Homo sapiens: one gene and its partners. The protein of the gene in region 2 interacts with the protein of the main gene of each other region in a biochemical or structural test. Each region holds a gene or a part of one and is shown on either strand. Other genes may lie near its edges.

Region 1 (3,654 bases), on a different chromosome or scaffold from region 2:
CATACTGTGGCTCACTGGGTTGTTATGGGGACTGACGGAGCAGGAGCCACCCCGGGACCTACAGGTCCTTCTAGGCTCTCTGGGCCTCCTTCCAAGAGGCAAGGGCCATTCCTGTACCTTTCTCCGTGGAAGCGGGGTGATTTATGAGTCCACGCCCACGGGCGCCAGGACGCTCTGATGCAGAGACACTGGGCCACTGCTCAAGGGGCAGGCTGGCTCCTCGGCCTGAGCCCAGGGCTGCTGGCACACACCTCCCTCTGGACTCAGGGTGAGAGGCTGCGGTGGGAATTCTGGGTTCGTCTTCATAAAAAAACAATGCCCTTGGGAAGGAGCTGGGCTTGTGCAGCACAGTAGAAGATGGGAGACGCGACACACGTGGAATTGGTTCAAGAATTGCTTGAACCTGGGAGGCGGAGGTTGCAGTGAGCTGAGATCAAGCCACTGCACTACAAAGCTAGACAATGTCTCAAAAAAAAAAAAAAAAATTAGCTGGGTGTGGTGGTGCGCACCTGTAATCCCAGCTACTCGGGAGGCTGAGGCACGAGAATCACATGAGCTTGGAAAGTGGAGGTTTCAGTGAGCCGAGAAGGCACCACTGTACTCCAGCCTTGGTGACTCTTGCTCTGGTCAGAGAGAGACTCTGCCTAAAAAAAAAAAAAAAAAAAAAAAGAAAGAAGAAAGAAAAGGAAAAGAAAAGCCAAAAGGCATCAAGCACAAACCTCGTTCACAATATAGTCCAGGAGTTCAAAGATGGCCATGGCAGGCCGGCTATCCATCCCGTGACCTGCACAGGGAGAGAGATGGAGGTGAGATGGGCCGATGGCCACCTCACTTCTGCTGGGGGTTGGGCTCCCAGGGGGCTGATCACCACCAGGCGCCCTCCTCCACATGCCAGCCTAAATTGGAGGCGGGTGTGCAGAGGCACTGGACAAAGCTCCCCTGCCTGACTCTGGGTTCCATTCCCTGGGACAGCTACTCCTTGCCTGAGCCTCTAGTGAATTAAAAAAAAGGCAAAAGGAACAAGAACATTTTTTGAGAAGTCACACATTTGGCTCGGTGAGGCTTGCCGGACGTGCCAAAGTCATCACCCCTCCTCTCTGGAGGGCAGGGGGAGGGACGGTGCTGACCGCAGGCAAGGACAGCCGCGTGACCTTGCATGGAGCTGCTGGCGGTGATGGGGGCAGGCCCCAAGTGCCACTCAGGACGGGAGACTGGCTAGGGGTGGCTGACCCCTGTCTGAGAACCAGCTGGCCAGGCCTGGGCTTGGCAGCTGGACTTTCGCCTTCTGCCCGTCCTGAAATGGGCAGGTGGGCTGGGGCCCTGGGCTGGGGATGGTATACCACCTGAGAGTTGGGACTGGGAGAGGCTGAGGCTAGGCCTGAGGATAAGGACTTGGGGGCCTCTCCCTGGGATGAGATCAAGACATCCCAGCAGTCTGGCTGGAGAGGAGGAGGTGGGCTTGCCAGTGCTATGAAAATCTCCTTCTCACAGCCCCAATCCATCCGGGTAGGACCACAAAACGTGGCCTGTTCGTGTCATAAAATACTACTCAGCCTTTCAAAAGGACCCAGGCTCTGACACGCACCATGGCGTGGATGACCCTTGAGGACACTGCGCTCCAGGAGAGAAGCCACACACAAAACACAGAAGGCCACACAAGTGTGTGACCCCATTTCTGTGAAATGCCCAGGACAGGCCAGTCCAGAGGCAGGAAGGGGATGGAGAGTGACAGCTGATGGGGACAGGGTTTCCTCTTGGGGAGCTGAGAAGGTTCTGGAATTAGAGGTGATGGGGCGCAGCACTGTGACTGAAAACCACTGAACTGCTCACCTGAAATGAGTTGTGGGGTGTGTGCTTTGTAGTTCGGAAACATGGTTTTAAAACCAACCACAGTCCGCTACAGGGTCCTTTGGGGTCTGACGCCACCAACTCTCCCTGATGTCTGACTTTAAAAAAAATCACAGGACCCTCCTGTGATTCTGCACCAAGCAGGGTCCGCCCCCGGCTCTTCCCTCAGGCGGTGGAAGTGTCCGCTCGGCCCTCTCTGACTGGCGTCAGGGAGCTCCCGCTCCCGAGGTGCCCGCCCTAAGTGCCGGATTGTCCTCTGCGAGCCCAGCTGTCCCTGGGGCCTGAGCCCTCCCGCCCCCTCCCGGGCTGTGTCCCCTCCTGTGTGTGTTGGGGCCGGAGCCAACAGGCCACTGAGGGCCATGCCAAGTCCAATCTCCACTTCAGGACTCCCTGGAAGGCTTGGCCCGCAGCACAGGAGCGTGTCACCTGCAGAATGCAGGCTCTGTGGCGGCCAATTCCTTCCACTTTTCTGTGCGTTTGAATGCTTTCGGGATAAAATGTTGGAAAATCCAACTGCCCAGGGGCTTGGTGGCAAAGCTGCGCTCCCAGATCCCTCCAGCTGGCAACAACAGGTGCAGCTGCCCCGGACAGAACAGGTTTGGGGTGCTCACTGCTTCCAGCTCTGTCCCCGGAAACCCCAGGACCATGGGAGGACTGCTGACCACAGTCGGCACCATCCAGGGGGACAGGTGGTGCGCCAGGGGCAGAGGGGAGGCAGCTGCTGACCCTGGCACAGCAGGCCCCGCGCAGGGCACTGCGCGTCCAGACCGGAAGTTGCAGATTCAGGCCGTACCGCTGACGGGGCGCCCGGGGGGCCTCGGCCGAGGCGAGATGCTGTGAGGCTCTCCTTCTTCCCCGTCGACCACGGGCCGGCCAAAGATGGCCTCCAGCTCTTTGGCGTCGGGCGGGGGGATGGGGTACCTTCCGACGGCCAGCTCCACCAGGGACAGGCCCATGCTCCAGATGTCCGACTGCACCGAGTAATGTGTGCCCTGCAACCGCTCCGGCTGCAGCAGAGCCAGGGAGGAAAGAGCCCAGAGGGGCGAGGATGGCAGCTGGAACCCGGGAGGCTTGCCCCGTTACAGCCCCCGTCACCCTCTCCATGGCTAATGACCGCAGCAATGGATAGAGAGCTGTTACGCAATTCTACCTCCCGGCTCACCCACCCAGGGCCTCCCTGCGGCACTTGCTGAAGAGGCTTCCAGCCCGAGGCCTGGAGCTGGTGTTGACCGCAGCTCTTGAAGAGCCTGCAATGCTCAGCACTTTTGGGAATGGATGATGGGCCCCAGGAAGCAGGGGCCTCCTCCTCCACAGCTAACATCTCAGAGGCTGCTCCAAGGCTCAATTTGGCAGGTTGCTGAATCCCCAGTCGTTTCCTGAAAGACCCCAGATTCCAATTCCTTGGTCCAGAAATTAACTAAGGGCCGGGTGCAGTGGCCCATGCCTGTAATCCCAGCACTTTGGGAGGTTGAGGTGGAAGCCCAGGAGTTAAGACTAGGCTAGCCAATATGGCGAGACCCCATCTCTACTAAAAACATTTTTTTAAAAGTTAGCCAAGGCTGCCGGGCACGGTGGCTCACGCCTGTAATCCCAGCACTTTGGGAGGCCGAGGCGGGCGGATCACAAGGTCAGATTGAGACCATCCTGGCTGACATGGTGAAACCCTGTCTCTACTAAAAACACAAAAAATTAGCCGGGCGTGGTGGCGAGCGCCTGTAGTCCCAGCTACTCGGGAGGCTGAGGCAGGAGAATGGTGTGAATCCGGGAGGCGGAGCTTGCAGTGAGCGGAGATGGCGCCACTGCACT
Region 2 (3,654 bases):
GAAGTCAGGGCTTATATCTTCTCTCTCATCTCCCCTACGATGCATTTACCAAGGCTGGCCAGGGCTAGGGGCAGAGGCAATTCTAAATAAATAGTAGGAGATGAAATGTGTCCCTCCCAAATCTATTATGTGGCTGTCCCAGATGCCTTCATAGAGGCCTTAGGCAGGTATGGCTTAATAGCAGCACAGCTACTTCCATTAAAAGATTTTGACACAGGGCCTTGGTATGACATGGCCGCCAGAAAGAGCCAAAGTGATCTTCAGCTGTATTTTTTTAAAGAATGTTCATACTCAACTGTGGTCAGATTCTCCTCAGTTACAGTATTCAGCTGTGGGATCCATAACTTAAGAGGAACATGGACAAGCTGAAGTGCATCATGAGTGGGAGGAGGAAACAGGAGGAGAGGCTGGAATCTACATCCCATAAGGAACAGCTGAAAGAGCTAGGGCTCTGCTAGAAAAGTGAAACAAGATGATATAATATTTGCCTTCAGATATCCCAAGGGCTGTCCCAAGACAGAGGAAGCACCCTTGTTCTGTGTGATGCTATCCAGAGGATACAGCTAGGACCCATGGATGATCGCTAAAAGGAAAACGATTGCAGCTTAACAAAGGAAAAGCTGTCCACAGTCAAAACTTTCCAGCAACAGAATGGATAGGCTTAGAAGGGAATGAGCTCCCCTGTGACTACTGTAGAACAAGCTCAGGGACACTGCACAGGAGGCTCATGAAATGGTTAAGATTAGACTAGGTGACTTCTAAAAGGCTCTCTTTACTCTGAGATTCTTTGATTCTAGGTCTCTACCAAGAACAGAATTACTCTGGGAGCACTGAGTTAAGTCTGCCCCTTGGTGCTTGAGGGGTAGAGGGGCAGGCAGTGAGAGCAGCCCTTCCCATAATCCCTGCTGTTCTTCATTAACTTTTCTCAGATGGGTCAGCATCTTTTTTCCCTTAGTTCTAAAGAAGTCTAACTATAAAAGCCATGATGTTCCCTCCAGATAATCATCCATAACCTCCAATCTCAAGTCTGAGTCTCTCTTTTTTCTTTAAAGAAATTCCTGGGGAGGGGGTTGGGGAAGGCAAGGGGGGAAATCATTTTAATTTTTTTAAGGGACAATGGAGTTGAATTATTTTCTTTGTGTGAAGTTTTGGAGAGGGAAAATCCTCTAATAGGCTTGACCTTTTTTAACTTCAGCAAGCATACATGTGGCTCTCAATGGGGTACCAGGTGTATTATGAAAACCCAGCAGGGCCAAAAGTAGTATCGACTCAAAGCTCAGCCAAGGGTTACCAGCCATACCACCCACCCTTCTTGCTCCACCTCCCTCCAACCTTCTTTGTATCTCTCTGATGGATTTCTAATCCATGCCTCAAAATGCCCTCTACTTTCTGGGATAGGGCAGCAGGTGGGAAACTGAGGTAGTGGACATCTTTGGTGATTCTAGAGGCAGAAATGAGGAGGGGATTCATGTAGGTAACCAGGCTGGACTAAGCTCCAAAGATGCACACCCCACGAAGGTCCCTTTGTGAGTGCCAGGCACTGGTCTGTAACACAGCTCAAAAGATTTCACAGGAACTCTCATTGTTCACATAATACCACCTCTGCACCCAATAAGAATTCAAAATCACAGCCAAATTTACTTCCAGCCACAAGACAACCTCTATCTGAGTTTATCCAGATCCTCTTGAAGTCTCAACTGCCTCTCTGTGTGCTTCTAGAAATAAGGTCAGACTAGGAATGGAATACAGACTAAAACAACTTGATGAGCATGCCCTGCCACTGTCCTAGGCTAAGGATGGCAAACACTATTAGAGTTTGCCTAATTCATTGTCTCATCATCTGTGATAATAGAGATGGGGCAGTTATGCCTAGGCCCCACTCTGCAAATAGAGACTTGGGTCTGGAGAGTGTAAAATTATATAGCAATATCAGAGCACATCAAGTGGATGGGAGTAAAGCTTCTTTCTCCTCCAGGTTACTCCCCTACCCCACTCTGTTTTGTTCCAGGGCAGTAACTAGCCCCACTTGCTTCACTATGCCAGATAGAAACATCTACCATAAACGAGCCAAGAAAAGGGAAAATATGTTAGCATGAGCCTACATATCATCAGACACATCTGATTAGAAGAGAATCCCCATTCCATCCAGACAGTACTTCTGAGTCAATGAGGTAGCGTAACATGTTAACCAAAGGAATCAATAATGCCAATGTCATGGGCCCTATTCCTTTATGGGTCATGTATCTTTTACTTGTTACCATGATCTCACTCGAAACACCACAATATAGGGAAACATCATAAACTATCCCTTATTATTTAGGATAATCAATCGTATTTTATTTTTTGGAGGTGGGGTCACACTATGTTGCCCAATCATGGTACACTGCAGCCTGGAATTCCTGGGCTCTAGGGATTCCTCTTACCTAAGCCTCCTGAGTAGCTGGGACTACAGGTGCAAGACACCGCATCCAGCAATAGTATTAAAAAATTTTCTCTTTCTTTGCCACTTGACTGTCGGGGGGTACTATACAAGTGTCCATAAATCAGGCAGTTGAATTCCCCATATTCAGGGAAATCATAGGAACCAGCAGGAATTGATGATTTCCCCAACTTGATCATTTCCTGGTCCAAAGGGTCTCCCATGACAACTATGAACTAGACTTTCACACTGCATACCCTCTTCCCCCACTAATCACTACTTTTTCAAATTCCCCCACTCCCCAGATATCTCCACTTGTGCCACAAGATATCTCTGAGCATGTATGCCACACCATCCCTGATGCAAACCGCTTCTGGTTTTTTTTCCACAAAGGAGGTTCTCTGCCATTTTCCACCATGCTTCCTGCACCTTACCTCTGTCTCTCCCTGACCTGAGATCATCACAAGTGATTTGGGGTCATCAAAATAGTCCTTTCCTACTCTGAGCCCAGACTCCATCAGAGTGTACCTACAACCCAGTCCGTCACCAAGTATGGAATTACAGGCTGGCATGGAAAGGGACACTGCATTAGGAGGCTAATAAGACTAGATACATCCCTGAAAGTTATTGCCCTGTGCTCCTTCACAAACCACAGTACTAACAGAAGAATCAGAAACTCTCTTAGTAGGACTGCCATTGACTCTCAGTATGATAGACATAGGTAAGCCACTGAATACATCAGTCTCGGGTTTTCCATCAGTTTCTCCACAATCTTTCCTGACTGCCTCACAGTGTAGCTGCAAGAGAGTAATGAAATAAAGGATGAGGAAGCACATTGTAAATAGTAACACTGTATGCAAATGAAGCAAAGCTTCATTTTCCTCACTCTGCAGCAACACTTCTGAGAAGAGAGCCAGAGCTAGCATAAAAGATTAGCTATTTGGCCAGGAGTGGTGGCTCACGCCTGTAATCCCAGCACTTTGGGAGGCTGAGGCAGGCAGATTGTTTGAAGGAGTTGGAGACCAGTTTGGGCAACATGGTGAAATACAAAAATACAAAAATACAAAAAATCAGCCAAGCATGGTAGCGTGTGCCTGTAGTCCCAGCTACTTGGGAGGCTGAGGTGGGAGGGTTGCTTGAGCCTGGGAGGCACAGGATGCAGTGAGCCGAGCTGGCACCACTGTACTCCAGCCTGAGCAACAGAGTGAGACCCTGTCTCAAAAACAAACAAACAA
Region 3 (3,654 bases), on a different chromosome or scaffold from region 2:
TTTATTTTTATTTTATTATTATTATACTTTAAGTTTTAGGGTAATGTGCACAATGTGCAGGTTAGTTACATATGTATACATGTGCCATGCTGGTGTGCTGCACCCATTAACTCGTCATTTAGCATTAGGTATATCTCCTAATGCTATCCCTCCCCCCTCCCCCCACCCCATTATATGTTGGCCCAAGTTCTTTGGAGCTTTTCCTAAAAAATAAACACTGGGCCTTAGTTTTCCTATAAAACTACAGAAAGCTCTTTGAGAAGCTATTTATATGGTATGTGGAGCATTGAAAGATTTTGTTCCCATCTTTTATAAAAGCAAAAGGAATAGTATGCTTTGGACTAGTCCTACTATTTGTAATATATCACATTATGTTCTTTTTAGAACATTCCAGATGTATGATATGAATGACTTTTTCACTTAGTTGTCCACTATCCTATTATTTCTTCTCATTGAGTCATGTATATTTAACAATGATTCATAATTGATTAGTCAAAATTTGGTTACTGAATTATTACAATTTCTATAGCAGATTTTAGAGTATAAAATTATAGTGTAGCGTTGAACAACTCTAGTATCTATTGAGTAGGCAGAAGGTGTTTAAATGGAATTGAATTGAGCTACAATGTGTTACTAGCCTAAGATGCAGAAGATTCAAACCTGCCTTCTGCCCCCCTTTCTGCTTGTATACAATTGATAGTACCTTTTTCAATTTCCTCTCCTATGCATATTCATATGTAAGAATAAGACCATGTGGTGGCATTTGTGTTTTATTTTACTTTAGGATTTTAAAAAATTTTCTACTGTAATTAGAACATTATCAAATAGGCATGAGATATTTCTTCCTTCTCTAGCACTGCTGTTTAAATACAAATATATTTTTATGATGTCTTTGATGCCAAGATACTGGGATTTCCTTGGGTTTCATATATATTTCTAAAAGATAATTGGAAGGGCCGATATTTAACAAGATGTAAAGATCCCATGGCATAAAGAGAAAAGGGAACCCTGGAAGGAACATCATGTTTGTCACAGGATCTGGGTTCCTGTGGAATAGCAGACGAGGCAGAATTGAGAATGATTTGAAAAAAAAAAAAAGAGAACAAACATTGCAAGTTGCTGGTAGGCTTATGAAGTTAATGCTAGTGGGATACCTTTGTTCACACTGAACTGACTTCGTAAATCACAGCCCCATTTCAGGCACATGAACCCTGTCCACCACCCCTCATTCTAGCTTCAGTCATCAGCATCCACTACTCTTTGAATCTTATGTGTTTATGAGAATTACATGAAAAAATTCATATAAAGTACAAAATATTATGCCTGATACTTACCAGAGTCTCATCAGATTACAGCTATCAATATCACTATTATTACTCTCACATCATCACCATTATGATTATAACTACTAATGTCACACATCCCTGGAGCTGGCATTTCCCATTGGTTTGCCAAGTTCAGTATGGATCCATTTGATCCTTAAGTATATTTCTCTTTTAAAAAGATCTCTGAAATAACTCTATCAAATATAAAATTGACTCCAGCATATCTGTGTCTTTCTGAGAAGTAATGTTATTGACATATCTATTAACTAACTAAAACGTTCAACTTCTAAAAAGATACAGAATTAGGTCTGATGGGCTTGGCCTAACATATAAAGCTATTGGGAATAATAAATGACTCTAATCTTTGGGGAAGATATTTAACAATTTTATGAATACAAACTTTATTAAAACTATTAGCTCTCCCTATTCTAATAAATCTAAGTGACATAATATAATTTTTTTAAGAATTATATTTTTATATACCAAAGTAAGGTTCTTAAACATCATACAAGCACTATAGTGACTTAAGTTACTATGCTCCTAAGATATTTAAAAATATATATACATATAAAACAAGAGTTTATTGTGTAGTAGTATGAAAAAGGTTAGATTTCAGAGAAACATATGGAGTCATACTTTACACTAATTAAAAATTAAGTCTCCCAATCAATAAGATTTTGATACTGACCTTCCTGGGAATTCCTTTTTTCAGACATAGGAATCTGGGTCCTGTCCAGCTCACTAATACGATAGAGATCGTCAAATTCCCCCCAGCGTGTCATTCTGAGAAGTAATAAATCTTGTAAGTACATCAGTTCCATTTATATTGAAGCCTATGATGGTTTCCAGATTTACAATATTAATATAGTAATACTGTGGGCCTCTGTAGGTGGATATATTGTCCAAAGTTATAACAATTTTATGATATTATTAAAATTATATTCATACCAAAGTGGTCAATATATGTTTTAAATGCTTCCTGTACTTTTATAGAGCATATCTTTTTGACGTAATAATTCAGTTACATACTGAAACACAAGTTATATAGATTCTGTAAAACATATGTCCAAATTGAATTAGTAGAAACCAAGATGATCAATTGTTATAAAGATATTTCACAATACTCTTAGGGGAGCTTGGGTATAAAAGTGTTCTTTATACATTCTGTCAATATGTATTGTACCTTTTGCATTCAAAACATTGTTAGGTAGAGTGGCTCTAAAATAATAAAATATAGTGCCTATCGTTTAAGGCCCTTGACTACCATGAAGAATGTAGTTTACGAAGGAGGAAAATGTATGAGAATTTTGCCAGAAAATTATGATTTCATAAAGAAACTAGCAATTTTAAGTGCATTCTAGTGCTCAGAATACATGAAACCTGACAAATGTTTATTTTTACGGCAGGTCAAAACTCAATTTTATTTTATTTATCTGGTCTTAAACAAGTTTCTTATCCCCTCTGTGCCTGTGTCCTCATCTGTAAAATAAAAATGATAATAGCATGAGGTAGGATAGGGTTGTTTTGAGGATTAAAAGAGTTAATTTGTATAAAATTCTTGAATCAGTGCCCTGAAAATAGTAAGCATTCAATATAGATTAACAATAATTATAATTATCCTCATCTCCATTGTCATCATCATCATCATCATCATCATCATCATCATCACCAGCATCTGTATCTATTTCATTCCTGATGGGCCAGGAACCATTAGGGACCCAAGGTGTTCCTGGATCTCTCTAGGCAAATGGTTGCTATTATCTAAGAATCTCTTCAGTAATGTCTGTTTTTCTTATGACTAAAATATATTCACTTATAGGGAATTTATGGCATTGACTCTGCCCGAATTTCATTGGTGGCAACAAAAAATATTTATTAATACTAATGGTAGTGAATATGAAGAAAGTCATCCCTTATCCTCTTTACTTTTGAATTCTTTTGAAGCGTGTTTTATGGCTACTATATCATTTGAGTCTCACAATAGCCTTATGATGTAGAGAAGGTAATCCTAATATATTTGTTAATTTTCCAGCAAGCTGTACTATTCAGAATACAGCCAATCAAAACAAATGTCATAAAGCCCAACTACAGGTAATAACTTTAACTCAAAGGAAAACTACCAGGTCCTGACTCAGAATCTAATTAGTCTTATGGCAGATAAAATTACCCATTTCCCCAAATCTATAGCAGCTTAATAATCAGAAAGTGGCAGACATAATTATCGTAGAAGGGGGGTTAGGAATGGAAAAGTCAATACCAATGAAAAACAGAAACTAAAAATGCAAAGTAACCTGATGCTATGTCATAGGGCTAAAGATAAGAATCCCCA

What was found.
Region 1: the proteins of SHROOM4 (region 2) and MAP2K2 interact in a test that uses a peptide from one of them, tested with the Homo sapiens proteins (one large-scale study listed by IntAct).
Region 3: the proteins of SHROOM4 (region 2) and RASSF6 interact in a test that uses a peptide from one of them, tested with the Homo sapiens proteins (one large-scale study listed by IntAct).

Annotation. Positions count from the first base shown.
Region 1 is NC_000019.10:4,096,560-4,100,213, forward strand, and holds part of MAP2K2 (dual specificity mitogen-activated protein kinase kinase 2), read right to left. Parts: intron 2,856-3,654; coding exon 2,642-2,855; intron 785-2,641; coding exon 720-784; intron 1-719. UniProt on the Homo sapiens protein: Catalyzes the concomitant phosphorylation of a threonine and a tyrosine residue in a Thr-Glu-Tyr sequence located in MAP kinases. Activates the ERK1 and ERK2 MAP kinases.
Region 2 is NC_000023.11:50,807,669-50,811,322, forward strand, and holds part of SHROOM4 (protein Shroom4), read right to left. Parts: intron 1-3,654. UniProt on the Homo sapiens protein: Probable regulator of cytoskeletal architecture that plays an important role in development. May regulate cellular and cytoskeletal architecture by modulating the spatial distribution of myosin II.
Region 3 is NC_000004.12:73,585,827-73,589,480, forward strand, and holds part of RASSF6 (ras association domain-containing protein 6), read right to left. Parts: intron 2,109-3,654; coding exon 2,014-2,108; intron 1-2,013.